Regions from separate parts of the Homo sapiens genome. Here all the other regions are linked to region 1. The links come from fine-mapping of genetic effects on gene expression. A gene starts in region 1. Each other region holds a variant in brackets. All regions are shown on one strand. Distances are between the middles of the regions.

Region 1 (4,545 bases):
CCTTTCCCTGGGGCCAAGCACAGGCAGACTCCGGGTAATGGCACAGGGGTGAAAAGGCAGGGACTAGGGAGAGAGGTGAGAGCCCCGGAGGCCCCCAGGACACATTTTGACTCAAAGGCAAAGCAAACAGCAACTCCAACAGGTCCCAAGTTGGTGAGAGCTGCAGGAGAGGACGCTGTGGGGGGACAGTGGGCAGGACTCACCTCCCGCAGCAGCTGCATCCCCTTGAGCTCCTCCTGCTGCTGCTGGGCCACGGTGACCCCCAGGACCAACGTGTGCACCACACAGGAGACCACGGAGATGATCACGATGGGGCTGAGGCTGAGGGGCAGCGTGATGAAGAAGGAGAAGACAAAGAAGACCTGCCAGCCCACCGTGTCACTAGCCGCGTGGGCACGCGCGAAGTTCAGGCCCAGGTAGGAGAAGATCTGGGCGGTTATGAGCAGCCACAGCACGTAGGGCAGCACTCTGCGGGTGACCCGGTCCGGGAGCAGCCCCTTTTTGCAGAGCACGAAGAGGATGATGTCCAACACCAGTCCAATTCCAGCCACGGCGAGGGAAGCCAGCTTGTCGCTGGAGAAGACCACAGCACACATGACCACCACGTAGCAGTCAAAGAGGGCTGCAAAGACCACCAGCACCAGCAGGGTCTCGTGGCGCTGCCTTTTGAAGTAGGTCTGGTAGAGGTTCTCCAAGGACTCCGGCACGAAAGTCAGCCGCATGAAGCGAGGCAGGCACAGGCAGGAGCCCGAGTTCCGGACCGAGATTTCATGGGTCCGGCCCACCCCGCGGTCAGGGTCGGAGGGCAGGCTGACGGAGTACTCGGCTGAGTACTCGGCCGAGTATTCGGGCTCGGAGAAGCCCTGGTTCCTCGGCATACTGGCTGGTGTCTGCTACTGGCCCTAGAGAAGTGGACTGGGAACGGAGGAAGAGCTCTGGACTGGGCCTCCTCTCAGGGCTCTCTGAGACCGGGGGAGGGCTGAGGGCCTCTTCTTGTCTGGGGCGGAGGGGAGGCCACCTCCAGCAGGAACGCAGAGCGGGTTTCCAGAGCACAGGTAGCACTGATCAGCTAGAACTGAAAAGGGCATTGCTGAGTAGAAGCACCTCTTCCCTCCTACCTTGCGGTTTCCCCATGACCCGCCCTAACCCTCATAAAAGGATCTCTGCTGCAAGAGCCTCCCAACCCAGGGCCTTCCCTGCCACCCCCGGCTCACACCACCGCCCACCGCAGGCACACTTAGTCCTGTCCACGCCAGACACTCAATTTCCTGTCCCTGGCTTGTGGAAGGGCCTAGCCGCCTTTCCATCCCTGGTAACCGGTTTCTCTCTGTCATCTCTTCTTTCTCAGTCCCCGACTTCCTCACCTAAATTCCCTCCAGGCCCAGTCCTTAGAAGCTGTAAATAAAATGTGCCGGAAAGAAATCAGGACCATCGTGGGGGATTCCTGAGCCTTCCTTCTGTTTACTTCCTTTTTCCACCAAACCCTTGGAGGCTCGGGCTCCGATCCGGCCCCCTTCCCACGCTCGGGGCGCTGTCTTCCCCCCCGGAAGCCTGGCCCTGCCCCTGCGTTTACCTGTGCGGGAACTCGGCCACCGCGTGCTCCGGGACGGTCCCCGCGCGGGCTGGGGCGGGAGAGCTCGGCGCGCCCGAGGGCTGCTCCCCGCAGAGCCGCGCCGCCCCGGCAGCGCCTCGGGGCCCGGCCGGAGCGCGATCTCCCGCCGTCAGGCCCGGGATCCGACCGGGAGAGGCGCAGGGCTGCCCCTCAGCATCCGCGGGCGCCCGGCCGCAGGGGGAAGGAGGAGGCGGCGACGAGGGCTGGGAGATCCGTGGGCGCCGGCCCAGCGCGCCCGCCCTGGGGCTGAGGCTCAGGGGCAGGGGCCGTGCGGGGGCCGGCAGGCGCGGGCGGCGGCGAGCGCGGCTCTCCGGACCCCTCCCCTGCACCCGCGGCGGCGGCGGCTGCTAGGGGCGCGCGCGGGGCCCTCCCCGGCGGGAGCGCGGGCCGAGCCCGGGGAAGCCCGCCAGCATCCTCTCGCCCGCCCGCGCCGAGCCGAGCCAGCCGAGTCCGGGCTCGGCGTGCTGCACAGCTATTCCCCGCGCGGCGCCGGCGGCTCCGGGGCCACGCGCGCTCCAGGCCCCGGGAGGCGGGAGGCGGGAGGCGGGAGGCGGGCGGGGCGGCCCCTCCCTCGCCCCAGTCTCCGCCCTCTCGGCGGCGCGTTCCGGAGTGGGGCGGCGAGGGAGGCGCCGGGCGGCGGTCCCAGGACCCGCGCGGGCGAGAGGTGGAGGGGCCCGGGCGGCCCCCGATCCGGCGCGGGCGGCGGGCTGGGGCGATGGCTGCGTGGAAGCGCGGGCGCGGGCGCGGGCGTGGGCGGTGGGCGGTGGGCGGCAGGGCTGGGGCGAATCCACCCCTTCCAGCGAGGAGGCCCGGTCTAGGAGGATGGAAGCCCGGGACGCGCCCGCCCGCAGGTGAGGCGCGCTCGGGGCACCCCGCCGCCCCCTCCTCCGCCGCGGCTTCCTTCCGGGCCGGCAGAGGCCAGGGCTCAGGTTTGGGGACCGCTCCGCCGCGGGGCACGTGGGGCCTAAGTATCCCCGCCCACCCCGGGAGCCCAGACTCCGGAGCGCCGGGCCTGAGCTTTCCGCAGAGGGGCTCGGCAGCGGAGCCCTGTCCTGCTCCCAGGAGGCGGGTGGCGGTGGCCCGGTGGGCACTACACACGTGGAACTGGAAGAGTTCCTGAGACCCTGCTTCGAAGAGATTTCCCGTGCACATTCTACCCGTTTGAGATGTGTTTGAGTTCACAAACTGTCCCTTAAAGATGCGAATGCTCCTTTGAATAGTTAAACCTATCAGTCTCTTACACCATAGTATAAATTATTTTCCTTGCATTTGACAGAACACCGTGCTAAGATCAACTACAGGCTTTGGGAATTTAAATAAAGGAAGAGGAAAGAGATAGAATGTTTTGGGACAAAAGGGACAAAAGCATGTGTGGGAAGGTAAGTGCTGAGGACAGCCAGCAGCAATAGGGGGTCATCTCCCCTGGGGAGAGCTGAAGGAATGAACAGAGGGGAGAGAAACTTGGCTATCCAGACCCTGGATGGAGCTGCCACCCCATGCCCCTGAGAGTTATCCGCGGGCACCCCTTCCAGAACCTCAGGCATCACCTTGCATCCCTCGGGGAATGGATCCATTAGAGAATCGATCCTGCCACTGCTGTTTCTACCGTTCCCTCACACTCTGTCTGAAAAGGCGCCACCTTCAGCCCATACTTCGCAGGGCTTTGATTCCAAAGGTAGGGGACCTAACATCAGATATAGGAGTTTGGTAATTTAAATAAAGCAAAACTTTGCCCCATTGTTTTATTTTATTTCTATTTTTTATTTTTTCGAGACTGAGTCTCACTCTGTCACCCAGGCTGGAGTGCAGTGTTGTGATCTCAGCTCACTGCAACCTCCACCACCCAGGTTCACGCAATTCTCCTGCCTCAGCCTCCTGAATACCTGGGATTGCAGGCACACACCACCAAGCCCGGGGTAATTTTTGTATTTTTAGTAGATGGGGTTTCACTATGTTGGCTAGGCTGGTCTTGAACTCCTGACCTCAAGTGATCCGCCCACCTCAGCCTCCCAAAGTGCTGGGATTACAGGGATGAGCCACTGCTCTGGGCTGCCCCATTGTTTTAATTTGCTGGAGGTTTTTGGGTTTTGGGGGGGATTTTTTTTGGAGGGAGTTATTTGTGGTTTGTTTTTTGTTTTTGTTTTTTAAAAAGGAAGGCATTTATTTATTTATTTATGAGACAGAGTCTCACTCTGTCGCCCAGGCTGGAGTGCAGTGGCCATCTCAGCTCACTGCAACCTCCGCCTCCTGGGTTCAAGCAGTTCTCCTGCCTCAGCCTCCCAAGTAGCTGGGATTATAGGCACCTGCCACCATGCCTGGCTAAATTTTGTATTTTTAGTAGAGACAGGGTTTCATCATGTTGGCCAGGTTGGTCTCGAACTCCTGACCTCAAGTGATCTGCCTGCCTCAGCCTCCCAAAGTGTTGGGAATACAGGTGTGAGCCATCATGCCTGGACTTTGCTGGAGGTTTAAACATTTATTTTGAATTGTCACATGATGTTAAAGAGGACATGACTTTTATGTTTTACAAAGGGAGATGTAATGTACGGCAAGGCGCAGTGGCTCATGCCTGTAATCCCAGCTCTTTGGGAGGCCGAGGCAGGCAGATCACTTGAGGTCAGGAGTTCGAGACCAGCCTGGCTGACATGGCAAAACCCTGTCTCTACCAAAAAATACAAAAATTAGCCGAGCGTGGTGGCGGGTGCCTGAAGTCCCAGCTGCTCAGGAGACTGAGGTGGGAGAATCGCCTGACCCTAGGAGGCAGAGGTTGCAGTGAGCCAAGATCGTACCACTGCACTCCAGCCTGGGCAACAGAATGAGACCCTATCTCAAAAAAAAGTGGGGGTTGGGGGAGAGATGTGCTAATGTTTTTTAAAAGGCTGATAAATCTTGTGCTTGGTCCTGCTTTGGCACAAGAGACACCATGTTGCACC
Region 2 (4,545 bases), 61 kb before region 1:
GCCCAAAGATGGCCACGTGTGTGGTACCTGGAGCCCTCACCACGAATTATTTGGCAAAGAGCAGGTACTACTCCTTAGAGGTTTGAAGAGTTAACGAGCTGTCAACTAGGAGACCTGGCCCAAGGGGCAAGCCACCATCCTCTAGAACAGCGCTAATAGAACTTCCTGCAATCACAGAAATGTTCTGTATCTTTGCTGTCCAATATGGCAGCCACATTTAGCTACTGAGCACATGAAATGTGGCTAGTGCTACTGAAAGACTAACATTTTCTAATTAATTAAGTTTAATTTAAATAGCTACATATGACAAGTGGCTACCATACTGCTACCTATTGCAGCTCTAGAACACTGTAGTCACAAGTACTGTGCCAACTCTGATGGGCAGAGAGCAGCTGCCTCGAGCCCTGTGTTGAGAAGGATGCGGAGGGTTCGTATCTGTGACTGGCGGAAAGCAGACCCTTTGCATTCTCTCCTTGACCCAGATGCAGCAACTCAGTACCACCCTGGGCATAAAGGCCCAAGAAAATTATACCGACAAAATTTCCACCTTTACCCACGGCACTCCCTAAGCTCCGTCCTCTGCTTTCTCTCCACAGCCCTTCCCAGCTCCTGACATAGCACATACTCGTCTGTTTAATGTGTGTTGCCCACACTAGAATCTGTTCTGCTCACAACTGTATCCCCAGTGCCTAGAAAAGTCCTGAAATACTTGTGGTCTGAATTTTTTTTTTTTTTTTTTTTTTTTAAAGAGACAGGGTCCCGCTGTCTCCCAGGCTGGAGTGCTGAAGTGTAGTCACAGCTCACTGCACACTGATCTTGCTGGGCTCAGGTGATCCTCCCGCCTCAGCCTCCCAAGTAGCTGGGACTACAGGTGCGCACCACCACCATGCCTGGATTTTTTTTAAGTTTTTTTGTAGAGATAAGGTCTTGCCATGTCTGGTGTTGGACTCCTGGGCTCAAGAGGGGCTCAGTGACCCAGTTAGAATGTGAATGCAAGTCTTACTTGCAACCTTTGTTGACAGATCTTTCCATTTTCTAAGTGAGTCAAAAATCCAGGTTTTTATCCAGAATGTACAAATGTTTAAGTATTAGAAAATGTTAACACTCTGGGAAGGTCAAACAAAACAGATACCCACAGGCCAGCTGTGGTCCAAGGACTACCTAACTGATTCTTCCTGTTAATTAACAGATCTCCCAAATAGAGCCAGGAGGAAGTGCCAGCTGGTAAATGAGAGATCTCATTATTAAATGAAATAATCCAATGAAAACACCATCCAGGGCCTGGCACAAAATAAATGTTCAATAAAACTACACTCATTACTAACAAAACTTCATTCTTACAGCCAGATAAATATAAAATGCGCCACAACCCTGGCCACAATGCACAATTCTACAATTCTACAACTCTACAGTTCTCCAGCAATTCTACAACTGTTTGGAGAAAAATTCTGCTGGAGGATGTGGCAAAGGCTTAAGACCTGCCACAGCCCAGCAGAGCCCAGCTCAGAGGCCACACAGCCCATGCATGGGCCGTCAGCAGGACTGTCCTCACCAGCTCTGCTCAGGTCCACCCTGACACAGCCAACATCCTCCCACTGCCACCAGGAACCCACCACTGCTTTAGGACAACCTGTTTTCTATGGGTTCATCATCTGCATTATCTGAAATGTGGATTTGTTTTGCTAAGTCCTGGAATGTTGAAATGAAGAGCATTCTGTGACATCCAAGAGGTGAGAGTTGGAACCAACAGAAGGACCAGTGCCTACTTCGCATTATGGGGAACGCACCTGGCTTTTCTCACACTGAGAGGCATTCGAGGCTAAAAGAAAAACTAAAAATATTAGATATCTTTGTGGGTGGTTCTGTGAAGAAGATAGCGAGTACAATGCAAGGCTGATGCTGGGGGTGGGGACGTGTCTGTGTGTCTCCTGTGAAGCAGACAATGGATTTGACCCATTACATTAGACGCGGAGAATGCCATGATGCAGCCACGGTGCAACGAGCAAGACGCAGAGCAGCTATGGATCCACAGGCAGAGGCACAGCCCTCCCACTCGACACCAGCTTCGTCTCCTCTTCCCACTCTTAGTGGTCCCCCTGCCCCGACCTCACTGTTGCCAGGATAACAGTGGCA[T/C]GGTGGGGCTTGGCACTAGAAGCCCAACCCCAGGCCAAGAGGCAACTGGCCTCTGGCTCTGACTCCCCTCTCCCCTACCAAGCGCCTATAAGAACAGGGCTCAGGGTTGATGACACCTTGTCCTAATAGCAAAAGGTCTTGGGGGAAACAGTGACCAGGCTTGGGCAAAGGTTACAGAGGAAGAACATTCAGAAAAGCAAGAGATACAATCCAAGCTTAGGAAATGGCAGCCTCCCAGTGTCCCAAGCTCCGGGGCTCCCAGGAGAGGGGCCTGACGCTTGTGGTCAATGGGCGGTTCTTCCCTGTAAGACCGGCATGAAGGAAAAACACCATCCCTAGTAACAGGTGACCCTGCACGTGGGTTAAAGCAGAAGGAGAGGTGGGGAGAGGCAGCTGTGTCTCTGTGCAGTCCCCCAAGACCTGAATGGAAACCCACCCAGCGTCCACCTCAGCTGTCTCCCCAGGATCCCAAGGGTGAAGATGGGGATGGCTTTCTACCCTAGACCCTGTGCAGTCTGCCCTGGGCTCTCCCTCTACGTGCCCTGGCTGCAGCATCCTCCTGTCTGAGGGTGGGCACTGTGGACAGTCCTCACCTCCGAGGGAGGACCAGGCACAGGGCCAGTTAACCACACAGGACGCGTGTGAAGGAAGCATAGGCCTGCCCCTGTCATCCCTCCATCTTCCCACATCCTCCGTCAACCATGTTCCGATCCCTGGGAAGTGATTCTGAGTATGATTCAGAGAGGCTCAGTTTTGTAGCTCCACCTGGCAGCAGGTGTGTGCTGAGTGGGTTTTCTGGGTGCCGCCTGTTGCCAGGTGGCGGCTGGGGTGCTTAGCAACCCTCAAGGTCCCCAACTAACCCCTGAAGTGTGGTCACATGGGAATAAAGACAAACAACTCCAGTTCTGTCCTCTGGGCCTCCTGCTCTACCCTCACATGCCCACAGAGCCGGGAGGCTGGACCAAGGTCAGCATGCACCCTGGCGGCCCCGCACCACAGGGAAGCGCCATGGCACTGCCTGCGAAGCCAGATATGTGTTCGGCAGAGGCAAAGAGGACGCTTCGCATGCCAGGGCTGCACCAAGAGCTCCAAATCCACAAGGCCTCAGGGCAGGGCAGGCTCCACTACCTCCCTGAAGGAGACTGGAGCCAGGGAGGTTAAAGCAGCAAAGCCACTGGAATCTGAGACCCTTGCCATTACCCAAATGCTCTGTTGCCTCAATGCACCCTTTGACATGTGGACATGCTCACCCCAGTGAGGAGGCAGAAAGGGATGCCTGTGCTTGAGGGACTGTGCCGCCTCACCCTCCTGGACCATGGCTGGCTGCCCACCCATCTGGGAGTTGACTGTCATTAGGAGGCTGGTCATCTTCATAACAGAAGGTACAACTTCCCAGGGGATGGCAAGAGAGAGAGCGGGCTCAGGTCACCAGCGCATCCCTACACCTCACTTCACAGCAGAGGAGGAAGCTGAGGCCCAGCGAGGAGACACCTGCTGGGACAGCCACATGGCCAGGGCTGCCCTTCAGCCGCACACTCTTAAGGCAGCTTAGAAAACAAGATAAATAGCCGAGCATGGGGCTCACGACTGCAATCCCAGCACTTTGGGAGGCCAAGGCAGGCAGATCACTTGAGATCAGGAGTTTGAGACCAGCTTGGCCAACATGGTGAAACCCCGTCTGTACTAGAAATACAAAAATTAGCTGTGTGTGGTGGTGGGCACCTGTAGTCCCAGCTACACGGGAGGCTCAGGCAGGAGAATCGCTTGAACCTGGGAGGTGGAGGTTGTAGTGAGCCAAGATCGTGCCACTGCACTCCAGCCTGGGCGAAAGAGTGAGACTCCATCTCAAAAAAAAAAAAAAAAAAAGATAAGAGCACCTGACCAAATAAAAAGTGAGACATGGACCCTGGGCACTCAATTCTGGAAGGAGGCCCCTTTTTTGCAGAGGGTAGATTAACGATTGTTTTTATAGGAGACACTCATAATTTTTTTAAATGGAGAATTTTCTTAAAAAAGACATTAAGCACACATGTAAGTAAGGGATGGCCTGCTCTGACACTGACCTCAAATGGCTCTTTGGAGCCACTTCCAAACCAGGTTCTGTTTCCTCTCATACCAGGACTGTCTGCGGCCCTTTCCAAAGTGTTTTTCCATCTATTATCTCATTTTTATTCTCATGAGGAGCTTTTACAGGAGGAAAGTGAAACGGGGTCATGCAGCCTCTAGTACCGGCCTGCACTCAGCTCCGAAGACCCGTCAGCTGATGTTTCTGAAACGTCAAATCAGCCCAGAGCCCACGCCACTCCCAACGTCAGCCCCAATGCCTTGGGAGGGAGTGACCTCTGTCCTGGCTGGAAGAGAGAAGGGGAAGGATGCACAGGCCCCAGCCAGCTCCCATCCTACCTCACCACC
Region 3 (4,545 bases), 39 kb after region 1:
CCAAAGGTAGCTTTGAAGAAAATCTCTGTCCTGCTTAAGCAGTGTATAATAACTTTTGTTAAACTTGATGATCTTCAGAATCGCCTGGAGAGAGAGCTTTTTCAAAATATAGATTCCTGGGCTCCATCGCAACATAAGCTTCCAGTAGGTCTGAAGCCTAGAAGTATGTATTTTAAGAATTTCCTCAGGTAATTCTGGTGATCAGCTAAGTCTCATCTAAAATAGACAGCAGTCAGATCACTCATTCTCATTCTCTCTTCCTTTCTCTCCCCCTTTCTCTATTTCTATCTCACTAGATTCTTTGAAAAGAAAGAGCTTATTCTAATGAGAAATTCCTATTACTTTTTTGCTTCCTATAATTTAAACTGAAAATTGGCACAGTGGCCTTGACACAAACCTTAAAACAACAAAATGCTAGCTTACCTGGAACATCTCATTAATGCCTTCTCCAGTTTGTGCTGAAGTTTCAAAGTACAGGAACCCTTTGCTTTCAGCCCAAAGACGTCCTTCACTTTCATCTACACAGCGATGTTTGGTACAATCAATCTGAAATAGAAGGGGCGGGGGACAGAGAGAAGATTACAATCTTGTCCTACTAGAATGGACCCAGTGAGGGTCTCTGTCAATCCTTTACTAAGGCAAAGCTATTCTTAGTAAATGCCTGCACTAGTGTGTAAAATTACCAGGACCAAAGGGACAGAAACAAAACTTAATATTGAATGTAGACTGATATTCTATGGCAACAGGACTAGTGCCTGCTGCTGCAATGTCCCACCTGATCCCTTGGGAAAACAGCTGTTACTCAGTTCTGTGAAAGTTGGCTTCATGACATCTGCCATACCCTTGGGGCCATAGTCTGCTTTTCACACCTTTCCATAGTCCACATCACCTAATTAATGCCCCTACTCCAGTCGGGTCAGAGTCTGATTATTAGGAACCATTGCTCCCACTCAGTCACCAACATCCTTCCCCATGTATGGCACCAGAAAAAAAAAAATGTATACAAATTTTGATATAGCAGGTTTTAGGCTGCTGTGTTGTTTTGTTTTTGTCTTAGGGACATTATGTTTTGAAAGGTTATTGATTTCCATATTACACAATAAGGAATTTTTCTTTTCTTTTTGTTTCCCAACACTCAAAGCTCCACTCTTTCCCTAGAAATCTGAACACACCATTTCCAGAGGGGTTACCTTGTTGGCACAAACTACAAATATAATATTTTCCATGTTTCCATGAGGTCCAAGCTCTTGCTTCATTTCTGCCAGCCACGCATCAAGGGCGTCAAAGGAGTCTTTCTGCCCAACATCATAGACCAGTATCACACCCTGTGTGTCCTTGTAAAACTCATTTCGAACCTTCAAATAAAAGGACAGATACACAAAACGTAGTTTTTGTGATGTTATAAGAATGTATCTCACAGTCATTAACCTGGCAAAGTGTGTTCTTTTGTGTATTCTTAGTGTTTGCTATTGTATCTGTTTCTACTGGTCATTAGAGGGTTTTTTATAGAATCAAAGTAATGTCATTCTAAAAATGTATTAGCATAGAAGGACTTACAATGGAAAACAACAGCCTCCTGCCCCACCCCGTCCCACCTCCAGTTCCACTCCCTAGAGGCAATCAGTCTTTAATTATAGTAGACCTTAAAAGAACATCAATTATATAAAGTTCTTCTTAGGAAGAATTAGGAAGGTGAGTGAGCAATTCAAAAGAACTTAAGGCCAAAATGACATAAGTGTCAGCAATGGGTACAGCCATTTATAAATCACATCCCAAAGCTGGCTTCCCCCAGGGTGCTAGGCAGAGCTTCCCTGACTCTCGGGTCTGCACACCAACTTTAGAACTCCAAACTCAGAGCCTCAGTGTGATACAATGGAAAAGAGCACAGGCTCTGGAGTCAGACAGATCTGGGTTCACACTTACTTACTAGTTTTGTGATCTTGGGCAAGTCACTTAACCTCTCTGCGTCTCAGTTTCCTCATCTGTAAAATGGGGATAATACTACTTACTTCACAGGGTTATTATGATGGTTAAATGAGATAATGCAGGCAAAGTACTTAGCATGGTGCCTGAAAAACAATGTCTATTTAACACCTTCCCCTT[C/T]CTTCCTTGCATTCATTCTCTGGGCTTCATTCCAAATGTGGGAAGAGGCAGCATGAAATATGGGCATACTCAAACATTAGGGCCAGAGAGAAGTTAAGGAGCAGCATTGACACATGGGGTTTCCGGGACAAAGTTCCAGAAAGAATCCTGACAGAGCCCATATATTATATGTTCTTTTCACAAAATTCCCAAATGTACTCAGACCCACACAAGCTATGTAGTAAGAAATGAAAACATGTTATACACATCGGGTAGGGTTTCTGGGCATAGGCAGATATCTGGACCAAGGATATTAAGTGCTCCTATTTGTTTACAGAAACCTAAGAAGCTATCCCCTAAAGTTAAAACCAACAAAATCAGAAAGAACTGAAGATGATGAAGCCCACCAGTCCTTTCCCTCAGTACTCATGGTCCTTGGCCCTTCTACAGCAGTTAACGACGGGCTCTCTCTTCTTTTCTAAAACTCTCACTGCCTTGGCTCCCATACATCACATTCCCTAGGCTCTTAAATTCTCTTTCACCAACTCCCCTTCTCTCTATTGCTCCCACTCCAGCTTACCACCAAAATCCCCCAAATCCTGTCCTATGCCTTCTTCCTTTCGTTTTGAATCCTTCCTCCCAAATCAGCAACATCAACCACTTGTACAGTTTCAACTGTGAGAATCTCCAAGATGAGCCCTCTCCTCTGAGGTTCCAGACCTGCATTTCTAATTAGCACAACATTCTTCCAGCTGAATGTCCTGTTGGAATCTCAAATTCAATATGCACACAGGAAACCCCTCAACTTCTTCCTTCTTAAACTATTCTCCAAAGTTCCAACTTTCTCAAATGATGTTAAAAGTTTCTGATCAGTCCTCCACCAACCTTCCCAGTCTTATCCTCCCACTAGCTCCTGACCTTCAAACTGGGGAATCTCTCATTCCCCAAACTTGCCCAAGCCTTCCTAACTCCATCTGGAAACAGATACCTCTTTATCTTTAATTGTTCAAGCCCTGGCTATAATGCTGTATCTTTCATGCAGCTTTCTCTGTTCCATTCCTCACCATCCAGCCCCCTACTCCTGCAAAACAGAATGTAATCTCTATGTCCCCTGGAGTACCATACTGTTTTGTACTTTCATAGTGCCATCACTTCCTGCCCAGTTTTACAGTTAGTAGCATATCCAGCTGTCTTCCCTCCTACACTAGAAGAAATGTGAAGACATGCATCATCTTCATGTATCCTCCCTTGTGTCACCCACAGGGCCTAGCAGATGCAGGCACACCTCACTTTATTGCACCTATGTAAGGCACATAGGCACACCTCACTTTATTGCACAGTATGTACATATTGTGTTTTTTTACAAAGTGAAGATCTGTGGCAACCCTAAGTCAAGCAAGTCTATTGATGCCATTTTTCCACAGTGTGTGTTCACTTTATGTGTGTGTCACATTTTGGTAACACTTATAATACTTCAAACTTTTCATCATTATTATGTCTGTTACGATCATCTGTGATCAGTGATATCTGTTACTATTTTAAGTGTTTTGGGATACCATGAACATATAAGGTCATTTAAGACAGCAAACTTAATAAATGTTGTCTATATTCTGACTGTTCCACCAAATGGCTGTTGCCCCATCTCTCTCCCACTCCTGGAGCCTTCCTCTTCCCTGAGACAAAACAATATTGAAAGTAGGCCAATTAATAACAATACAACGGCCTCTAAGTGTTCAAGTAAAAGGAAGAGTCATGTATCTCTCATTTTAAATCAAAACCTTTAAATGATTAAGCTTAGTGAGGAAGGCATTTCAAAAACAGATAGGCCAAAAGCTGGGCCTTTTGTACCAAACAGCTAGCCAAGTTATGAATGCAAAGGAAAACTTCTTGAATGAAATTAAAAATGCTAATCTAGTGAACACATGAATGCTAAGAAAGTGAGACAGCATATTGCTGATATGGAGAAAGCGTTAGTGGTCTGGATAGAAGTCCAAACCAGCCACAACCTTCTCTTAAGCCAAAACCTAATGCACAGCAAGTCTCTAACTCTCTTCATTTCCATGAAGGCTGAGAGAGATGAGGAAGCTGCAGAGGAAAAGTCAGAAGCTAGCAGTTGTTGGTTCATGAGGTTTAGGGAAAGAAGCCATCTTCGTAACATAAAAGGGCAACATGAAGCAGCACATGCTGATGTAGTGCTGCAAGTTATTCAAAATATCTAGCTAAGATCATTGATGAAGGTGGCTAATCAAAGCAACAGATTTTCAATGCAGATGAAACAGGCTTGGAATAGATAGATCTAATGGAAGAAGATGATATCTAGGACTTTCAAGGCTAGAGAGGAAAAGTCGATGCCTGGCTTCAAAAGCTTCAAAGGACAGGCTGACTCTCTTGTTACGGGCTGACAGAGCTGTTACGGGCTATATGAGCTGATGCTCATTTGCCATAATGAAAATCCTAGGGCCC
Region 4 (4,545 bases), 71 kb before region 1:
TTCTTCCATTTCCACAGCAATATCTCTTCACTGTTAACCTCAAGCATGGCACTACAGCTCAGGAATGAGAAGGCAAAGTAATCCCAGTACGCCCTGCCCTGGCTCCACCGAAGCCTGGGAAGTGGCATCCAGTTCTCCCAGGGCCCTGCAGCCCAGGGATAGCAACTTAGGCAGCCTTGGTGCTTGGCAACTCCCCTCTCTCTGCCAGTCAAGTGTGGTGAGAGGATGCCCAATGCAAAGAAATGGGTGAAGTGCTGGGTGGGACAGGACCCGTCTCGGAACCTAACTAACCAGACATTGTGGAAAAAGCTCTGGGTTTGCAGAAAAGATGAGCCTCTAGGAAGGTTTTCAAGAAAAGCCAGAGATGGGGCCCCACCAGCTCTTGAGGGCAGCCTCTCAAGGCAGACAGCTGCTGGGAGTCCTGAGGGGCAGGCAGAGCTGAGGAGTCTGGAGGAGGCAGGTGGGAGGCAGCACCCACTGGGCTGGGGCTGGGTTTCTCTGGTCAGTAATCCCGGGGATCCCAGCCCGCACTGGAGTGTGCGGCCCTGGTGTGCTTGAGGCTCGCGGGGCAGGAGGAGGCAGCCGTCAGGATCATGAGTGCTGGCCTGGCTCAGCCCCCAGCCCTGCCTGCACTCACTGTGGCTATAAGGTGTTGGGAACAAGCCCCCCAAAATCTGGCCATAAACTGGCCCCAAAACTGGCCATAAACAAAATCTCTGCAGCACTGTGACATGTTCATGATGGCCATAACGCCCATGCTGGAAGGTTGTGGGTTTACAGAAATGAGGACAAGGAACACCTGGCCTGCCCAGGGTGGAAAACCCCTTAACGGCATTCTTAAGCCACAAACAATAGCATGAGCAATCTGTGCCTTAAGGACATGCTCCTGCTGCAGTTAACTAGCCCAACCTATTCCTTTAATTCGGCCCATCCCTTCGTTTCCCATAACGGATACTTTTAGTTAATTTAATATCTATAGAAACAATGCTAATGACTGGTTTGCTGTTAATAAATATGTGGGTAAATCTCTGTTCGGGGCTCTCAGCTCTGAAGGCTGTGAGACCCCTGATTTCCCACTTCACACCTCTATATTTCTGTGTGCGTGTCTTTAATTTCTCTAGCACCACTGGGTTAGGGTCTCCCCAGCCGAGCTGGTCTCGGCATAAGGCAGGATACTAAACCTCCCTGTGCCTTGGTTTCCTAGGCAGGAAAGCAGGAAGGACACAATTCATTGCCGGCAAGCACTTAGAACAGTGCCTGGCCCACAGGAAGCGCTCACCATAGTCCAGCTTTTCCTACAGTCACATGATAGAAAGTATGACTGAGTGACTGAGGGTGTGGAGACAGCAGGTGGCTCAAAAAGACAGGGCTTAATGTTCCTCTGGGCTTTGAAGTTGGCCAGAAGTTTTTAGGTTGAGTTCCAGTGAGATGTGCCAGGGTCAGCACAAACCCTCTGGGTCACTCAGCCTGGTCTCCTGAGCTCTGCTTACTGCAGGTGGGACAACAAAGGGATACAAGGAAGGGCCCTGCCTTCCATTTGAGTCTCAGCCCCCCCCGCCACGTGTGCATTCAGGGTGCTGCTTGGGTGAGGAGGGCGCAGATGTGTGAGGAGCATGGGGAGGCGTGGTCAGGTGTGTGGGCAGGGAGGGACGTGGAACGTGAGGTTTAAGAACGTCACAGCACCGTGCTGGCCTCCCTCCCAGCCTACATGCAGTGGCTCCTGCAGCCACAGCCCACACAGGCCTTTCCTGCCCTCCTGGGTCTACCTCAGAGTTCTGTCCCTTCAGAAAAG[C/A]CTCTTCAGGCTCTCTTGGAACCTTGGGGACCTGAGAGTCCAATCCAGTCCTGTGGGAGCTCCATGCCCCTGACCACAGTACTGGTTCTCCCTCCAGACACTGCTGAGCCTCCTCCCGGTATGGCTGGGGTCTCGGAGACTGTCTACCAATACAGAACAAAAGTAGCGGCAGAGGCACAAAACCAGGGCAGCCCTGGAGCCCAAAACAGGAGCCTCGGAAGGGCCACATGAGTGAAGCGGCCGTGAGCTTCTCTCTGGGGGTGGGACAGGGGGAATTTCCATTTTTTTCCCTTATATATTTCCATAACCTTTGCTAAGAGCACAAATATGTTCTGAAAGCAGAAAATCAAACTTAAATAACAAGAAAGGAGCTATGCTTATAAATTCAGGCTGCCAATTCCCTGTGTGGTTTGTGGAAACCTTATAGTCAGGCTCAAAAAGTGAAGCAGGCCAACAGTCTACCTGGAGTCATTCTGGTAACAAGACGAGTTTTAAACAAGACGTCAGTGCGTGCAGAAGAAAGGACACACGGAACCTGACAGAGGGGAAAGGAGGAGGGGGGTCTGGGAGACGAAGGCCCACGGAGGGAGGGGCCCTCCCCCTGCCACCCCCCAAGCCTCAGGGCCTCTGGCAACCGCCTCTGAATGTGTCTCCCAGGTGCCGGCCGGCTCCTCTCATTCAGTCCACCTTTGGCACGGTATCTGGATGTCCTCTAAGCTGTGCGACACCATTGCCCAGCACCCTCAGTGGTGGCACTGACCTGTCTTTCTAGTCCTGTCCCCCACTGCTCTCCTTGTGGCCCCTTAGGGTAGATGAGCTGGACTGTTTCCTCTTCTCGGTACCCCTCCCTGTCCTCTGCTTCTGGTGTCACTCTCTGTGGAACATTCCTCCCTCCCCACACCTTCGACACCCACCTCACATGTCACCTCTCCAGAGAGCCCCTGGCCCCTGCCCAGGGGTGTCTGTTCCTCCCTCCTCACTAACACCCACTTTGTTGGTGCCTCTCGATTGGTGCTGGCCTTGTTTGCCCTTAGAGTTCAGAGGTTCTAAACCCTTTCCTGGATCCTGGCCCCTTTCATGAGTGCGTGATGCTAGCTACGGACCTTCTAGAAAAATGCTCATACACACACAGAAGATCCCTGATTACCATTCCAGAGCCCTGGCTAAAGACTCCGACACCCCTTCATTTGTGTTCCTGGGGGAAGGAAGGAGGCTGGGATCCAGGTGAACTGGCAAATGGGTCCCACAGTGGGGGACAGGAGTGCAGGGGAGAGAGGCCACCCATAGCAGCCTAGGATTGCTCAGGGCCCCAGGGATGATCAATGTGGCTTGGTCTCCCCAGCGTGGAAGCAGAGCCTGCTCTTCCAAAGATAGCAGTTGCTATACGTTTCAAGAGTCACAAGAATGTTCCAAACCTTTGACCCATTAATAGCTCTTCTGAGAATTTATCCCCCCAAATCCAACAGAAGTAAAAAGATATACGTAGAAGGTGATCTGCATTGCAACTTGACTTAACCCTTGTGGAAAAAACTGTAAGTCGCCCAAATACCCAGCAAATGGCTAATTAAAATGACACATCCTCTGGATGGAAGATTCTACAACCTTAAGAATGACCATAATGAAACAACAGTATTGTTTATCATTGCAATAAAGTACAGAGAGAGAAGAGCGGGACAAAATTGTGTTCTGTGAAGCTGACGCTGGGATCTATGTGTGCATAGAAATAAAGGCAGAAGGCTATATGCAAAGAGAAAAGGCTCATTTAACTTGGACGACCGAATTAGGGAAAACCTGAAACGTTTTTCAAAGTTGCTATAGGGTGCTGGTGGTTGTTCTTTTTAAAAATACTTTTTAAACTGGAAATAAACATGGAACTTCCTGTTGCCTCCAGCTGTGATCCTATCCCTGACCTCGGCTTCTCTGGAAGGACCACAGTTTTCTTAGAAAGGGAACATCCCTCAAGGCCTTTGGGCTTGGCTCCAGACTTCCTAGTCAGCTTGGACATAACCTGAGGAGGGGGAACCTATGGCCAGGCACGAACCAAGGAGACACACAGCCAAAATGGGGGTGGGGGAAGGCAGTGGTCCTCCTAGGAAGCCAAAGACAGAACGGTCACCCTGGGCTGGCTTCGCTCTGTAGCTCTCATGAACCCAGCACCCACCAGGTGACAGACACCATCCACCCAGTCAAAATCATCCCTCTCCTTTGCTAAAACTTCTGCATCAACCCGGTATTATTTATGTGCAATATTGTCTCAAGTTTGCAGGTGACAAAGCCTAGGCACAGAGAGATGAAGTTGTCTGTTACACATCCCAAAGGGTTAGCGGTAGACCCTGAACCCAGGGCTCTGAGACCCCTGGAATGGGTGAGTTTTTGTGCTTTTCCCACCCCAGTTCTCTCATCTGCTTTAATGTTGTTCTGCTACAGATGTGAAGGTCCCCCCAGTGCCCAGGGGCATCGGTTAAAACCTTTCCAAAAGTCCCATAGACTGTTCTTTTAAATAAACATAGAAATGGATCCTTCTGCTCTTAAGGCTTAAAACTTCTACTTATCTGAGTTCCTTCCTCAGCAAAGGACCTTCAGGCCTCTCAAATGAAGTACTGAATAACTGAAACTCACCAACCAGGTCACCACATCCAGACAATGAGACTCAGGACCCCTCATTCCTATTGTCTCGCGCGTTGTTCCATTTCTTCCCTGCCGTGTAAACCCCGGATTTAGCAGGTCAGAGAGATGGATTGGAGACTGAGTCC
Region 5 (4,000 bases), 110 kb before region 1:
AATTTTTCCCCTTTTATTCTATGTTTCTATATATATTGGGTGGCAACAAATTTAGGACTACTGTATCTTCCTGATTTAGTTGACTTTTTTTTATTATGAAATATTCCTTTTAATTTTAATTAAACTTCTTGCCTTAAAATCTATTTTGATATTGGCCGGGTGTGGTGGCTCACGCCTGTAATCCCAGCCGTTTGTGAGACTAGGGTGAGAGGATCTCTTGAGCCTAGGAGTTTGAGATCAGCCTGGGCAGCATAGTGAGAGCCCCTCATCTTTAAAACAAAATTAAAAATTAAAAAAAAGTTTACTTTGATGAATCCTAGTACAATAGTAACTTTTTTGGTTAACGTTTGCAGGTTAAGGTTTTTTTTTTTTTTTTTTTTGAGATGGAGTTTTGCTCTTGTCGCCCAGGCTGGAGTGCAATGGTGCCATCTTGGCTCACTGGAACCTCTGCCTCCCGGGTTCAAGCAATTCTCGTGCCTCAGCCTCCCAAGTAGCTGGGACTAGAGGTGCTCGCCACCATGCTCAGCTAATTTTTGTATTTTTAGTAGAGGTGGGGTTTCACCACGTTGGCCAGGCTGGTCTCGAACTCCTGACCTCAGGTGATCTGCCCACCTCGGCCTCCCACAGTGCTGGGATTACAGGTGTGAACCACCGCACCCGGCCTGCAGGGTAAGTTTTTTCTGTCTTTCTGCTTCCAATCTTTAAATGACCTTACGTTTAAGGTATTCTTCTTGTAAATAGCATAGAGCTAGATATTTTTAATCCATCTTGACAATTGTTGTCTATTGTTATTATTTATTATTGTTATTTTTTTTTTGAGACAGAGTCTCACTCTGTCGCCCAGGCTGGAGTGCAGTGGCGAGATCTCAGCTCACTGCAATTTCTGCCTCCTGGCTTCAAGTGATTCTCATGCCTCAGCGTCCCAAGTAGGTGGGATTACAGACGTGCACCACCACGCCTGGCTAATTTTTGTATTTTTAGTAGAGACAAGGGTTTCACCATGTTGGCCAGGCTGGTCTTGAACTCCTGGCCTCAAGTGATCTGCCGGTCCTGGCCTGCCAAAGTGCTGGGATTATAGGTGTGAGCCACTATGCCTGGCCAATGTTTGTCTTTTAATTGGAGTATTTAGTCCATGAACTTTTTTTTTTTTTTTTTGAGACGGAGCCTCGCTCTGTCACCCAGGCTGGAGTGCAGTGGCACTATCTCAGCTCACTGCAACCTCCGCCTCCTGATTCAAGCGATTCTCCTGCCTCAGCCTCCTGAGTAGCTGGGATTACAGATGCCCGCCACCACACCCAGCTAATTTTTTGTTTTTTGTTTTTTGTTTTTTTTTTTGAGACGGAGTCTCGCTCTGTCGCCCAGGCTGGAGTGCAGTGGTGCGGTCTCGGCTCACTGCAAGTTCCACCTCCTGGGTTCATGCCATTCTCCTGCCTCAGCCTCCCGAGTAGCTGGGACTACAGGCGCCCGCCACCACGCCCAGCTAGTTTTTTGTATTTTTAGTAGAGACGGGGTTTTACCACGTTAGCCAGGATGGTCTTGATCTCCTGACCTCGTGATCCACCTGCCTCGGCCTCCTAAAATGCTGGGATTACAGGCGTGAGCCACTGCGCCCGGCCAATTTTTTTGTATTTTTAGTAGAGACGGGGTTTCACCATGTTGGCCAGTCTGGTCTTGAACTCCTGACCTCATGATCTGCCCGCTTTGGCCTCCCAAAGTGCTGGAATTACAGGTGTGAGCCACCGCGCCTGGCAAGTCCATGAACTTTTAATGTGATTACTGATCTATTTGGATCTCAATCTACCATAGTATTTTATTGTCTTATTTGTCACGTATAGTCAACATTCCTTTAGTGTTAGACACATATTTACCCTTTTCAGTGCTCTTCATTTTCACATTTCCATCTGCGATTATTTTCTTTCAGTTAAGTAGCTCCTTTTGGTACTTCTTTTGGTATCGCTGGCAGTAAAATCTCCATATTTGTTTGACTGAAGACATCTTTATTTCACTATGTTTTTTATTTTTTAAGAGTATATTTGGTGAGTATATAATTAGATATTAGAATTTATTTTCTTTCAAACTTTATATCATTCTGTTGTCTTCTAGGGCCATAGTATCTTGTCAGGTGTGAAGTTTTGGCCTTATTAGTCAGGTGTTAATCTTATGTTTGTGAATATAATATGTCTTTTTCTTCGGGCTTAAGATTTTCTTTGTCTTTGGTTTTTAGCAATTTTAGATCAATGTGGCTAAGCATGATTTTTTTTTTTATCCTGTTTGGTGCTTGTAAAGCTTCTTTAATTGATGTTTTTCATCTGTTTTACAACATTGGCCAATATCTCTTTAAATAGTGCATCTTCTCAGTTTTTCT[C/G]TATTTCTGGGGCTCCCATGTATGGGTGTTTTTGTTTTTGTTTTCTGTGACCTATGTCTTAGTAATTTTCTAATCTTATTTTTTTCTCTGTACTTTAATCTGGATATGGAAAATATGCCTACTTTCCACTCCACGTAAGATCTTATTTGTCTAGTTGGCTTTTAAATCTATTAAAATTCTAATTTGAGTTACTGTATTTTTTTGGTTCTAAGATTTCCGTCTCATTCTTTTCTGTATAGATTCCAGCTCTTTGGTCTGGGTTTCCATCTTTTAGCCTGTTTTAATGGCCATGCCCCATTATTGAAATAGCTGAATCCCTTGGCATCTGTTCTGTTGTCTTCTTTTTCCTCTTGGCTTTCAGTCATCTGTTTCTCTTTCCTGGTATGCCTGTAGTTTTTTTTTTTTTTTTTTTTTTAATTCAATGATGAGTATTGTGTATGAAAAAATATACGGAGGTCAGGTGCTGTGGCTCACGCCTGTAATCCCAGCACTTTGGGAGGCCAAGGCGGGTGGATCATCTAACGTCAGGAGTTCAAGACCAGCCTGGCCAACATGGTGAAACCCTGTCTCTACTAAAAATACAAAAATTAGCGAGGCGTGGTGGCGCACACCTGTAATCCCAGCTACTCGGGAGGCTGAGGGAGGAGAATGGCTTGAACCCGGGAGGCGGAGGTTGCAGTGAGCCGAGATTGTGCCATTGCACTCCAGCCTGGGTAACAGCAAAACTCTGTCTGGAAAAAAGAAAGAAAGAAGGAAAAATATATGGGTTCTGAGTATGTTATCTTCCTCCAGAGGAAATTTTAGTGTTTTTCTGGCAAGTAGATCGTGTATGGGCACATCACCTTTATTCAGTTGAGGTGGTCTATTTCCGGTTTCCCTTACTCCTAGGGCTTAGCTTTTTTTAGGACCTTCAGTTGAAAGTTTGGGAGTGTGTTGGAGATGGGTCTATTAAGGCTCCTGTTCCCTGGCAGGCCCTGAAATCCACATTTTGTTCTAGCAAAATCTCTGCTTGGCTTTTTCCCCTTTAGCAGCTTCTTTCCGTTTGGTTTCTCAGTCCCCAGTCACACCTGTGCAGCTTAGGAATTAGCAAATGCCGGGAGGGAAGATTGCAAGCAGAACGTTGAGTTCCTGTTTCTATGGAATCTTGGCCCGTAGAAAGTCTGCTTTGATACCATTAATGTCCAGTGTTTGTTCCGGATGAGACTGCTGCGGAGTCTAGTTTATGCCTTTCTATGTGGCCCAGTGTGCCTTGCATATGAATAAGGAAATGCTCTGAGGCCAGAGGCTGCAGGGAAGCCAGCTCAGAGCATTTGTCAGTACTCTCCAATCCTGGCTATTTGGATCCTTCTGGAATGCCTTCAAACCATTTGCTCTCTTTGCTTGCTTGTTTCTTTTTGGTATTTTATCCAGCTTGCATAGTTGTTCTCAGAGGGCGGGTCAGCCTGGTACCTTCTGCTGGGCCATAGCTAGCAGCGTAAGCCTTGGAGCCCTGGCACTTGAAACCCCACACTGTCCAAGCACAACTTACCCAGCCTTGCCTCTTCACAGCCACCTGTTGTGTCCACCCTGTGCTTAGCCTAGACTTTCCACACAACCTTTTCTTGCTGCTCTCTCAGTCCTGTCCATTCCCATCAA
Region 6 (4,545 bases), 43 kb before region 1:
GTGAGCCGCAGGAGCTGCGCTTGTGGTGGGAGAGGCTCCCGACAGGGTCACCTGGGAAGGTGGCAGCACCCTGGGGTGCTCACGCAGCGACGGGAGGCGAGGGTGGCAGCAGTGCTCCCAGGCAACACTGACGTGCAGCCTGGGTGGGGAGTCCCCCTCCCGGCCTCAGTTTCCTCACCTGTATCCTCACCTCAGCATCACAACATTAAGTCCTAGACACAAGCACGCACTTTATCAGCCTCATCTCCTCTAACTTTACAACCAGTGCTGAGGCAGGTGATGTCACTCTGGTTTTACAGAAGGAATTGAGATTAAATTAAACAAGGTGTTAAAACTAGAGGGTGAGATCTCCTCCAGCATTCAAATCTCATTATTCTATGGTTCAAAACCCCTCCCTAAAGCACTCCTCAACTTATTTACATATTTCACAACCCCATCTTTTCCCAGAAAGGAGTGTGGACTTCTTTTTGGGAGGGGGGCGGTGGTGCAGATAGAGACAGGGTCTCACTCTGTTGCCCAGGCTGCACTGCAGTGGCACATTCAGGGCTCACCACAGCCTCAAACTCCTGAGCTCAAGCGAACCTCCCACCTCAGCCTCTTGAGTAGCTGGGATGACAGGTGCACATCACTTGTCCCAGCTAATTTTATTCTTTGTAGAGATGGGGTCTTGCTATATTGCCCAGGCTAGTCTTGAACTCCTGGGCTCAGGTGATCCTCCTGCCTCAGTTGCCCAAAACAATGGGACTACAGGCATGAGCCACCATACCTGGCCTAGAGATTTTTAAAACTGAAATTTAGATAGTCACGAAGATACTAGCCCTATAGCACTTAGGTGTGAGCTGCACGCATTTTAAATCTGAAACAATACTTGCAGATTTTCCACAGCCTCCATACACAGTGGTGGCCATTATCATTTCCACAGCTTCCATACACAGTGGTGGCCATTATCTCTAAGCTAATAAGATTCAGAAATTTCCTGTTTCATATTCATAAATGTGTATCTCACTTAGCAAAATGAATGTGCCCCTCAAAATATGTCTGTAAAAAGTAAGTTTCACTCTTTCAGCATGAGCAGGGCCCTGAGCTGGCCCTAGGAGGGACGGTGGCGTGACATCGTCCCTGTCCCCAGGGCCAGGCAGGTGTGGCCGCAGGAAGAACTTGATGCTGGGTAAGCAGGGCAGCTGCCGTTCCTCTAAAATGCATCCATCAGGATCGCCTCTCATTACAGGTGAAGAACTGAAGACCCAGGAAAAAATTCTGCCTCTGGGGAAAACTTGAACCCTAGCGAGAATCTGAAATAGGTCTTTCACGTCACCATGACACATGGGTTTCTCTGCACCAGGCCTTGAGCTCTGCTGATCTGGGATTAATTTTCCGGTGTTCCCACTCCAAGGTACGAGTGAGAAGTGACCTTCCTTTTTAGAACTCTTCTCCCTCCAGGGTGGCCCTTCCCCACACCCACCACTTTGCAAACCCCTCATCCCATTCTACCCAACCTGGCCCACTTGGCAGGCTCCTGTCCACCTGGGAGCCCTGCAGAGACCTCCCATCTGCTCCATCACTTGTACTGCTGCACCCAAGGCAGCCCCTCCTCCTCCCCCATGTCCCCCACACATGGCCCTGCCACTGTGTGCGGGAAGGTGGGCACTGTCCTCACATCTGTGTCCTCAGCCCATCCTGGCCCCATCCAGCCCTAGGTGCCCAGGAAGCCTCACGCTGTTGGGTGGCACAGATGTGGGTTACGACTCTACACTCACAGACTCACCACCCACCCCTCCCC[C/G]CTTCAGCCTCTGGTCAGCAGGCGAGCTGAGCAGAAGCCATCAGTAAACATGACCTTCTGGCCCTAGATCCTTCCTGGGACCCAGCTTTGCTGCTTCTAGCCTTCCAGTGAGCATCCCCTACCTACCCCAGTCCACCCCCGCCTGAAGAACAAAGAGGAACAAGGCTCGGTCGCTCCCCTGAGGACAGCGGACAGGGTACATTTTGGGAGTGATCTAGAACATCAGACAGAGCAGACCAACAGGCAGGAGGAGAGGTGTGAACAGTTGGGGAGATCACATCCAATCAGGGTGATGCTGAGGATGGCTTCACGAAGACGTGAGCATTAAAGAAAGATGGGGGTCTCTCTGAAACACGAAGACGAGCTCAGACACCACACTGGGTGAGTGGCACACAGGAGACTCCTCCCTCTCTGGAATCATGAAGAGCAACTTATTCCCAGGGCTCCCGCTCAAAGTGTTCTGCACACACACAGGCACCATCTGACCACCAGACAGAGAGGGAAGAGGCTCCTTGGCCTGGGGCGAGACAGCTGGCGCTCGAAGCCTTACTTCTGGGCCCAAGGGCAACAGCTGTACCTGGGAGCTGACTGCACTGCCCAGTCCCGGGTCCTGGGGTGACTCACCAAACCCATGAGGTTGAGAAGCCTGCTCTGGACACCACCAAAGTCACCTCTTCTTGCCCCGTGGTCCCCTTTAGACTGCACAGCACGATCAGGCTCTGTGGTGACAGAGGTCCACAGCCCCTGGGGTCTCTATTTATAGATCTTTTTACAAGTTTCTTAATCCTAAAGTTTTCCTGGAAATAACTTATTTCAAAAGAATTGTTCTGCTTTTTTAAAATATACAACATTTTTAGAATAATAAAATGCATCTCCCAAATGGATAAACACTTGGACTAAAGTGTCATCTAACCCATGACAGCCTGATAAAGTGTTTCTAATATCCCGGCTCAGAACGCAACCATGAGAACATTCCTTTACAAAATCCTCCCTCCTGGAAGTTTACGCATCGCAAGATCCTTCACGTTTGCTAACAACCCGTAGGGAAATGGGGCTGCTCTAAGTGGGACTGTCGAGTGGAAGTCACCCCACTGGAGGCGGTTTGGTGGCTCTCTTGCCCAAACCAATCTCTTCCTATAAGCTCATTCCAGCCTGAAGGTTCCAGAACACTCTGGAACTGTGGAGAAGAAGCTGAGCAAGAGAAAGCTGCTCAGGGTGCAGTGTCCGTGTCGCCCACAGAGACCTATGACGTTCTGCGGCTGGAGGCCAGCCGCACGGGAAACTCGTCATTAAAACTTACTCAGATGCTTTAGGAAAAAGTCTCCTAGCAGCCATGGGGCAGGAAGGAGGAGGGGAGGTGGCCCCTCCAAAGGCAACCAGCCTTCTCCCACCCAAGGAGGCCCAGCCAGAGCCTGTGAGGCCGCCACTCAGCACAGATGGGTCCCACTTCTGGGGCCACTCTCGCTGCAGACGCCTGTAGAGGCTGCTGCAGTGGCTCCTTAAGTCCCTATGAAATGTCCCTACCCCTCAGAGGCCTTCCCTGCCCACCCCTACTCATTCTCCAGTCCTGCTTTGAGGCCCAGCACAGAATGTTCTGCACTTGCCCTTCTCTGTCCTCACTCCTTCGCCTCGTCGCCTGGAAAGCAAACTCCATGCAGCCGGGACACGGGTTGTTTCCCTGCTGGCTCCCCAGCACCCGGGACTGGCACATAGAAAGCCATAGGCAACAACTGGCAGATGGAGGGGCGGGAAGAGGTCAGGCCTCGCAGTCACATAGACCTGCACACGGCTGCCCGCAGGCTGTGTGCCCTGGAGCAAGTCGCCTGCCTCTCTGACATGGCTCCTCACCCTTGCAGTAACCCCACAGGCTGTTCCAGTAAGACTGAAAGACTGGGCCGGGCGCGGTGGCTCATGCCTGTAATCCCAGCACTTTGGGAGGCCGATGTGGGCAGATCACAAGGTCAGGAAATCGAGACCATCCTGGCTAACATGGTGAAATCCCGTCTCTACTAAAAAAAAATGCAAAAAGTTAGCCAGGCGTGGTGGGCAGGAGGCTGAGGCAGGAGAACGGCATGAACCCGGGAGGCGGAGCTTGCAGTGAGCCGAGATTGCGCCACTGCACTGCAGCCTGGGCGACAGAGCGAGACTCTGTCTCAAAAAAAAAAAAAAAAAAAAAAAAGACTGAAAGACTGCACATACCTCACACAGGGCTTGGCACAAAATACCCCTTTCATGACTTTTTCTTTGCTTCCATTGAAGGCAAATTAGTAACTAATAATAACACTTTGAGGACGTTTTACAAGAATCTTCATGTTCATCATTCTATTTGTTTCTCACAACAAGAGGAGGCAGGGCAGAGTTTTCTTATTCTCATTTTGCAAGAGACTTAAAGTCAGAGAAATAAGCTTCCGAGCCCCTAGTCTCCCAGCAGCGCTGAGACCGGAACCCAGACCCCCTTACCCCGGGGCCAGGGCTCCCCTCCCTCAATACGATCACCTTAGCTGAACTGTGATGGGTGTCTGCCAAGGCGGGGCTACAGCCGCGGCACAGGGGGCTCCCCAAGAGCTAAGGATCCAGTTAGGACCTGGAACATCTGGGCAGGTGGGAAGGAGGAGTCATAAGGTCTGCAGACAGTGAGTGACTCTCCCATGCTGCCTTGGGCAAATTCTAAGCATCGCTGCACCAAGAGAGACTCTGAGATCTCCAATAAATGCAACCTTAATCAATACAACACGAGGCTCAAGCCTGGGGTGCTGCTGCCATGC
Region 7 (4,545 bases), 36 kb before region 1:
AATGTCAACGGAGCCAACGTCAAGAAACCCTGGCCTGGAACAACGCCTTCTTCCTTTTTGATTCCTGAGTGTTCACAATGAACTTTTTCTTGACCTTTTCTACCAGAGAATAATGAACTCTGAAGCAATGGTGTGAACAAGTAGATTTATTTTTATGTCAATTGTAGAGTTTGTGGGCTAAGAGGAGAATGCTCCTGATACTTACTGAACATAAAGACACAACAGCCTGATCAATGCACCCACCCAGAAGGCCCACGTTTCAGGGGTGTAGATGGTCAAAACCAGAGAAGGCCATCTGGTCAACCTCCCCATTTCCATGCAAGAATGGACAGCTCAAATGTAGCATCTTATCCTAACCCAGGGATTACTCACTTGGACTAGGCTTTGGAGGAGTTGGTGAGCCCTTAAAGTAGGGCAGAAATCACACTTGGCCCGTCTCTGGGAAGCAAGTCCATTGCTCTTGTCAGATTCTCCTAAGGATCTGTTACTCCAGATGACTGAGAACCACAAAACTCCTCAAAAGCTCCCACTGCTCTTGCTGCTTCACTAGACACACAAACATCTGCTCACAGCATTTCCTGTCTTCTCTTATTGATGTGACCTCATTATTTAGTCACCTTGGTCTCTTTCTCTAGGCCAAATAATTCCAATTCTATTTAAAGAAGTCCGTTTTAAAGCCGAATCATGTTTGGTCTCATGTCTTTTTACAAAGTGGTCAGTTCAACTCTATTGAATACTCTGGTGAGTGGCGGACCCCATACTGGGCCCTGGAGATTATAAAATTACCTCAAGGAGCTGACTCTACTGGCAGTAAAGAAGCTAGCAGTGGCCGGGCACCGTGGCTCATGCCTGTAATTCCAGCACTTTGGGAGGCCGAGGCGGGTGGATCGCCTGAGGTCAGGAGTTCGAGACCAGCCTGGGCAACTTGGTGAAACCCCGTCTCTACTAAAAATACAAAAATTAGCTGGGTATATGGTGGCACATGCCTGTAGTCCCAAGTTATTTGGGAGGCTGAGGCACAAGAACTGCTTGAGCCCGGGAGGCAGAGGTTGCAGTGAGCCGAGATCACACCACTGCACTCCAGCCTGGATGATGGAGTGAGACCCTGTCTCAAAAAAAGGGCCAGGCGCGGTGGCTCAAGCCTGTAATCCCAACACTTTGGGAGGCAGAGGCGGGCAGATCACGAGGTCAGGAGTTCAAGACTAGCCTGGCCAATATAGTGAAACCCCGTCTCTACTAAAAATATAAAAATTAGCTGGGCATGGTGGCGGGCACCTGTAGTCCCAGCTACTTGGGAAGCTGAGGCAGAAGAATCGCTTGAACCCGGGAGTCGGAGGTTGCAGTGAGCTGAGATCTCACCACTGCCCTCCAGCCTGGGCGACACAGAGAGACTCTGTCTCAAAAAAAATAAAAAAAAGAAGCTAGCAGTGAACAGAGGATGTGCAGCTCGATTCTGAGGGAGAGGGGAGAAGTCAGCAAAGGCCCCCATGAGGAAGGAAAGCTTGGGCTGGCCACACTCAGTTGGAGTTTTCACATGTTCTGAAAACACAGAGCTTTCACATATATTTAAGCATATAGATTCTGGACGATAAAGAAAATTGAAACCAATTTCTAACTGACGGCCAATACTAAGTGAGGCAGGAATGAAAGGGCTCCATGCTTTTGCTCATGCTTTCTTACCTATAAGCAACACTGGGTACATTTATCACACAGATCACCTGACTTTCTGAAACTAACTTTAGATGAACTTGAAAGCAAATGTACCAGCTCGGAGGAAGACAAGTGTATAATCTGGAGACAGAAGATATTTAGGAATCCAGATAGATCATCACACAAACTTAAAATGTAAAAACTTGAAGGGAACAGATCACTGATGACACAGAAACACCAAGCCCTTATTCTCTTGTGTTTGTGGCCATGGAACACAGCAAACTCTTTGGATTCCAAAACTTCCTACCTTTCAATTCAGAAAATGACATTTTGAGAGTAAAACTTTTTGCACACCGTCTGCAACAAAAACCCACATCATCTGCTCTCCTGAATCACAGCTTTCTCCTGGGGATTTGATACATCTTTTTTCTCCCCTTTAGTCCTTCTAGGGGTTTCTCAGCAATTCCCTCTTCCCTACAGCCTCTCACAGCCTTCCCAGGGACATTCAGCATTTTTTTTTTCCAGTCACTGGTTCTGATGCAACCCTTCTGGCGTTGTTCCTGAGTTGCTGTTTTTCCAGTTCAGTGTTTCTGGGCCAGGTGCACCAGCGTCCCAAAGGGAGCTGGTTAAAATGGGAGATTCCAGGGTCCTAGCCCACAGAATCCCCGGCATCTGCATCTGTGCCCTCCTCCAGGTGATTCTCTTCTACAGAATCACTGTTCAAGGTGGAGTAGTAGATAT[G/A]AAAACAAGGCAAAGAGCTTCCAGCCTTCCTGGGTCTTTAAACCAAACTCTCATGCTGCTGCCTTAGGCCATCTTCCTATGCCTATCCCCTATTTTTCTTCTATGCATTTATTGTCTTTATTTTCTAATAATCTTTTTTTTTTTTTTTTTTTTTTGAGACGGAGTCTCACTCTGTCACCCAGGCTGAAGTGCAGTGGTGCAATCTCAGCTCACTGCAACCTCCGCCTCCCAGGTTCAAGCGATTCTTCTGCCTCAGCCTCCCGAGTATCTGGGATTTACAGGTGCCCGCCACCACGCCCGGCTAATTTTTGTATTTTTAGTAGAGACAGGGTTTTGCCACGTTGGCCTGGCTGGTCTTGAACTCCTGACCTCAAGTGATCTGCCCGCCTTGGCCTCCCAAAGTGCTGGGATTACAGGTGTGAGCCACAGCGCCCAGCCCTCATTTTCTAACAGTCTTCTGATCCCTGGTTCACCCTCACCCTGAGTTAGGTACCCTTTTACCATCTTTTTTCCCTTCTGACCAGCATGTCTCCCACACATTCAAAGCTCCACCCACGGCGGTGCTTTCCACCTGTTGATGCTGCTTCATGTCTCCTGCGTTTAATTCAGTTCCCTGGTTTTCAATTCAGATTTAAAGTCCTTTCCAATTTTCCTTCTTCTTGTCCTGAGAGACTCTGGTCTGGAAGGACCATGGCAGGTCATGGACCAGGCCTCTCAATGCACTCTCTTAGTCACATGACAGAGACTTCCAAATTCCAAAATTCAAGTTCAAGGCCCTGGTGAACTATCACCTCTCCTAAATTCCAGTTCCTCAGCCTCCACTGTCTTGATGAGCACCACCTGCAGGTGCTCACTTCACCCTCACTCAGCAGATCCCAACTTTGGCTGTGCCTTAGAATCACCTGGGGAGTTATGCCCAGGCAGAGTCCACAAAAGTGGAACCAGAGGCCCAGACACTGGTATTGCTGAAAAGTTTCCAGGAGACCTTATGGCGGGACCAGGAGTGGAAAACGCTAAAGTCAATGTGAACACCCAAGCTTGTCATGGTCTCCCCTAACCAGCCCTGATCCACAGGTCTCACTTCTGCCAACACTACGCCCCAGCTAGGAACACAGCACCCAACACGGCGCAGGTCCTCAGTAACATTGGCTGAACGCCTGAACCAGCGCCAGCCTGCTCTCTCTCACTGAGCTCCTTTCTGTGCCTCCAGCAGGTCCTTCATCCCAGCTGGTCTTTCCAGGTAAAAGCCTCTGGGTCTCCTTTTTCCTCACTCTTGCTGCCACCACCTGGCTCACACCCTTACTTCCCACAGGGCTGGGGACAGACTCATCTCCCTGGTCCTGCCAATCCACCCTGGAACACATTAATCTTCCAAAATAATATTTTTGCAAGTACCACCTTCTGCTCAAAACACCTCAATAGCTGCCAATTGTCCAAGAGTTCAAAATCTTCATTCTGGCATTCAGGGTCCTATATACTCTGGGCTTTACCATGAACTTGAATCTAAACCCCGCCCCCACAGCTGCCTGAGGTAAACCATCTGCTTTAGCCAAGCTGACGTCCTCAGCATGTCACCAACTGGCCTCCTGACCTCGGCACATGCTGTAGCCCCTATTTTGAGAGCTCTTAAACTTCCCCACGAAAGTGCCTGGGGAGGAAGCTTCTCATTTTACTTGCTAATATATGTGGATTCTGCATTCTGTTCAATAAAATCCATGTTTGTATTTGTATTTTTAAGTGTTTAAAAATATTTGCCAAACAGATGTCTCCACCTGTTTCAGTGTAAGTGCCACTAGGGCAGGGACGACATCTGTCCCAGTCCCCACTGTGTTCCCAGCACTCAGTAGCACCCAGCACGCTGTCTGCTGGGTGAAGGAATGAATACATGGAGGACACAGGATGAAAGGAAATGCCAACTCCACGGTCATCCTGTGGCTTCACATGCGCCAAAGCAAACACAACCCTGCACCCCCAATGTGGGAAGCACGCACTTAGAATGCCCCTCCCCACCTGGCCGCCTTCCGCCTCCCCCTCGAAATCTAGCTGAACCCCGCCTCCTCCATCGAGCCCACCTGAGCCTCCTTGCGCTACATCATGTTTAGCAAACACGCCTCACCTCCACCCGGACCTTGCAAAGGGCCAGGTGGGAAGATA

Which allele goes with the higher level. Alleles are on the strand shown, and positions count from the first base shown. SD is a standard deviation of normalised expression in the study named. Not every link is listed here.
As copies of C replace T in region 2, the expression in monocytes of the gene that starts at base 2,128 in region 1 goes up (large effect, 0.82 SD a copy in CEDAR).
For the expression in visceral fat of the gene that starts at base 2,128 in region 1, allele G in region 6 goes with a higher level than allele C (small effect, 0.24 SD a copy in GTEx).

Evidence for each region. PIP is the estimated chance that this variant, and not a neighbour inherited with it, causes the effect.
Region 2: its variant is the best candidate, but not a certain one, in a credible set for the expression of ADCY3 in monocytes (CEDAR, PIP 0.77).
Region 3: its variant is the best candidate, but not a certain one, in a credible set for the expression of ADCY3 in whole blood (INTERVAL, PIP 0.50).
Region 4: its variant is the best candidate, but not a certain one, in a credible set for the expression of ADCY3 in spinal cord (GTEx, PIP 0.55).
Region 5: its variant is the best candidate, but not a certain one, in a credible set for the expression of ADCY3 in blood mononuclear cells (TOPMed, PIP 0.69).
Region 6: its variant is the best candidate, but not a certain one, in a credible set for the expression of ADCY3 in visceral fat (GTEx, PIP 0.53).
Region 7: its variant is the best candidate, but not a certain one, in a credible set for the expression of ADCY3 in whole blood (INTERVAL, PIP 0.75).

What each region holds. Positions count from the first base shown.
Region 1 is chr2:24,918,110-24,922,654 of GRCh38, forward strand. ADCY3 (adenylate cyclase 3) reads right to left here and starts at 2,128. Exons shown (of 22, transcript NM_004036.5): 1 at 1,574-2,128; 2 at 204-1,075. The coding sequence starts at 878. LOC124907742 (a long non-coding RNA gene) reads left to right here and starts at 2,235. Exons shown (of 2, transcript XR_007086246.1): 1 at 2,235-2,463; 2 at 2,889-3,349. RefSeq lists silencers at 1,513-2,242, 2,273-2,332, 2,373-2,582, 2,593-2,682.
Region 2 is chr2:24,857,271-24,861,815 of GRCh38, forward strand. All of the region lies in intron 3 of ADCY3 (adenylate cyclase 3), which reads right to left. Among named protein-coding and RNA genes, the nearest start is that of ADCY3, 61 kb to the right of the region's middle. The variant T/C (reference allele first, on the strand shown) is at 2,134.
Region 3 is chr2:24,956,620-24,961,164 of GRCh38, forward strand. DNAJC27 (DnaJ heat shock protein family (Hsp40) member C27) reads right to left here. Exons shown (of 7, transcript NM_016544.3): 4 at 1,191-1,355; 5 at 424-546. Among named protein-coding and RNA genes, the nearest start is that of DNAJC27, 13 kb to the right of the region's middle. RefSeq lists an enhancer at 738-1,692. The variant C/T (reference allele first, on the strand shown) is at 2,104.
Region 4 is chr2:24,847,410-24,851,954 of GRCh38, forward strand. All of the region lies in intron 3 of ADCY3 (adenylate cyclase 3), which reads right to left. Among named protein-coding and RNA genes, the nearest start is that of CENPO, 56 kb to the left of the region's middle. The variant C/A (reference allele first, on the strand shown) is at 1,793.
Region 5 is chr2:24,810,145-24,814,144 of GRCh38, forward strand. The region is part of intron 3 of CENPO (centromere protein O); the gene reads left to right. Among named protein-coding and RNA genes, the nearest start is that of CENPO, 19 kb to the left of the region's middle. The variant C/G (reference allele first, on the strand shown) is at 2,366.
Region 6 is chr2:24,875,518-24,880,062 of GRCh38, forward strand. All of the region lies in intron 2 of ADCY3 (adenylate cyclase 3), which reads right to left. Among named protein-coding and RNA genes, the nearest start is that of ADCY3, 42 kb to the right of the region's middle. The variant C/G (reference allele first, on the strand shown) is at 1,781.
Region 7 is chr2:24,881,948-24,886,492 of GRCh38, forward strand. The region is part of intron 2 of ADCY3 (adenylate cyclase 3); the gene reads right to left. Among named protein-coding and RNA genes, the nearest start is that of ADCY3, 36 kb to the right of the region's middle. The variant G/A (reference allele first, on the strand shown) is at 2,392.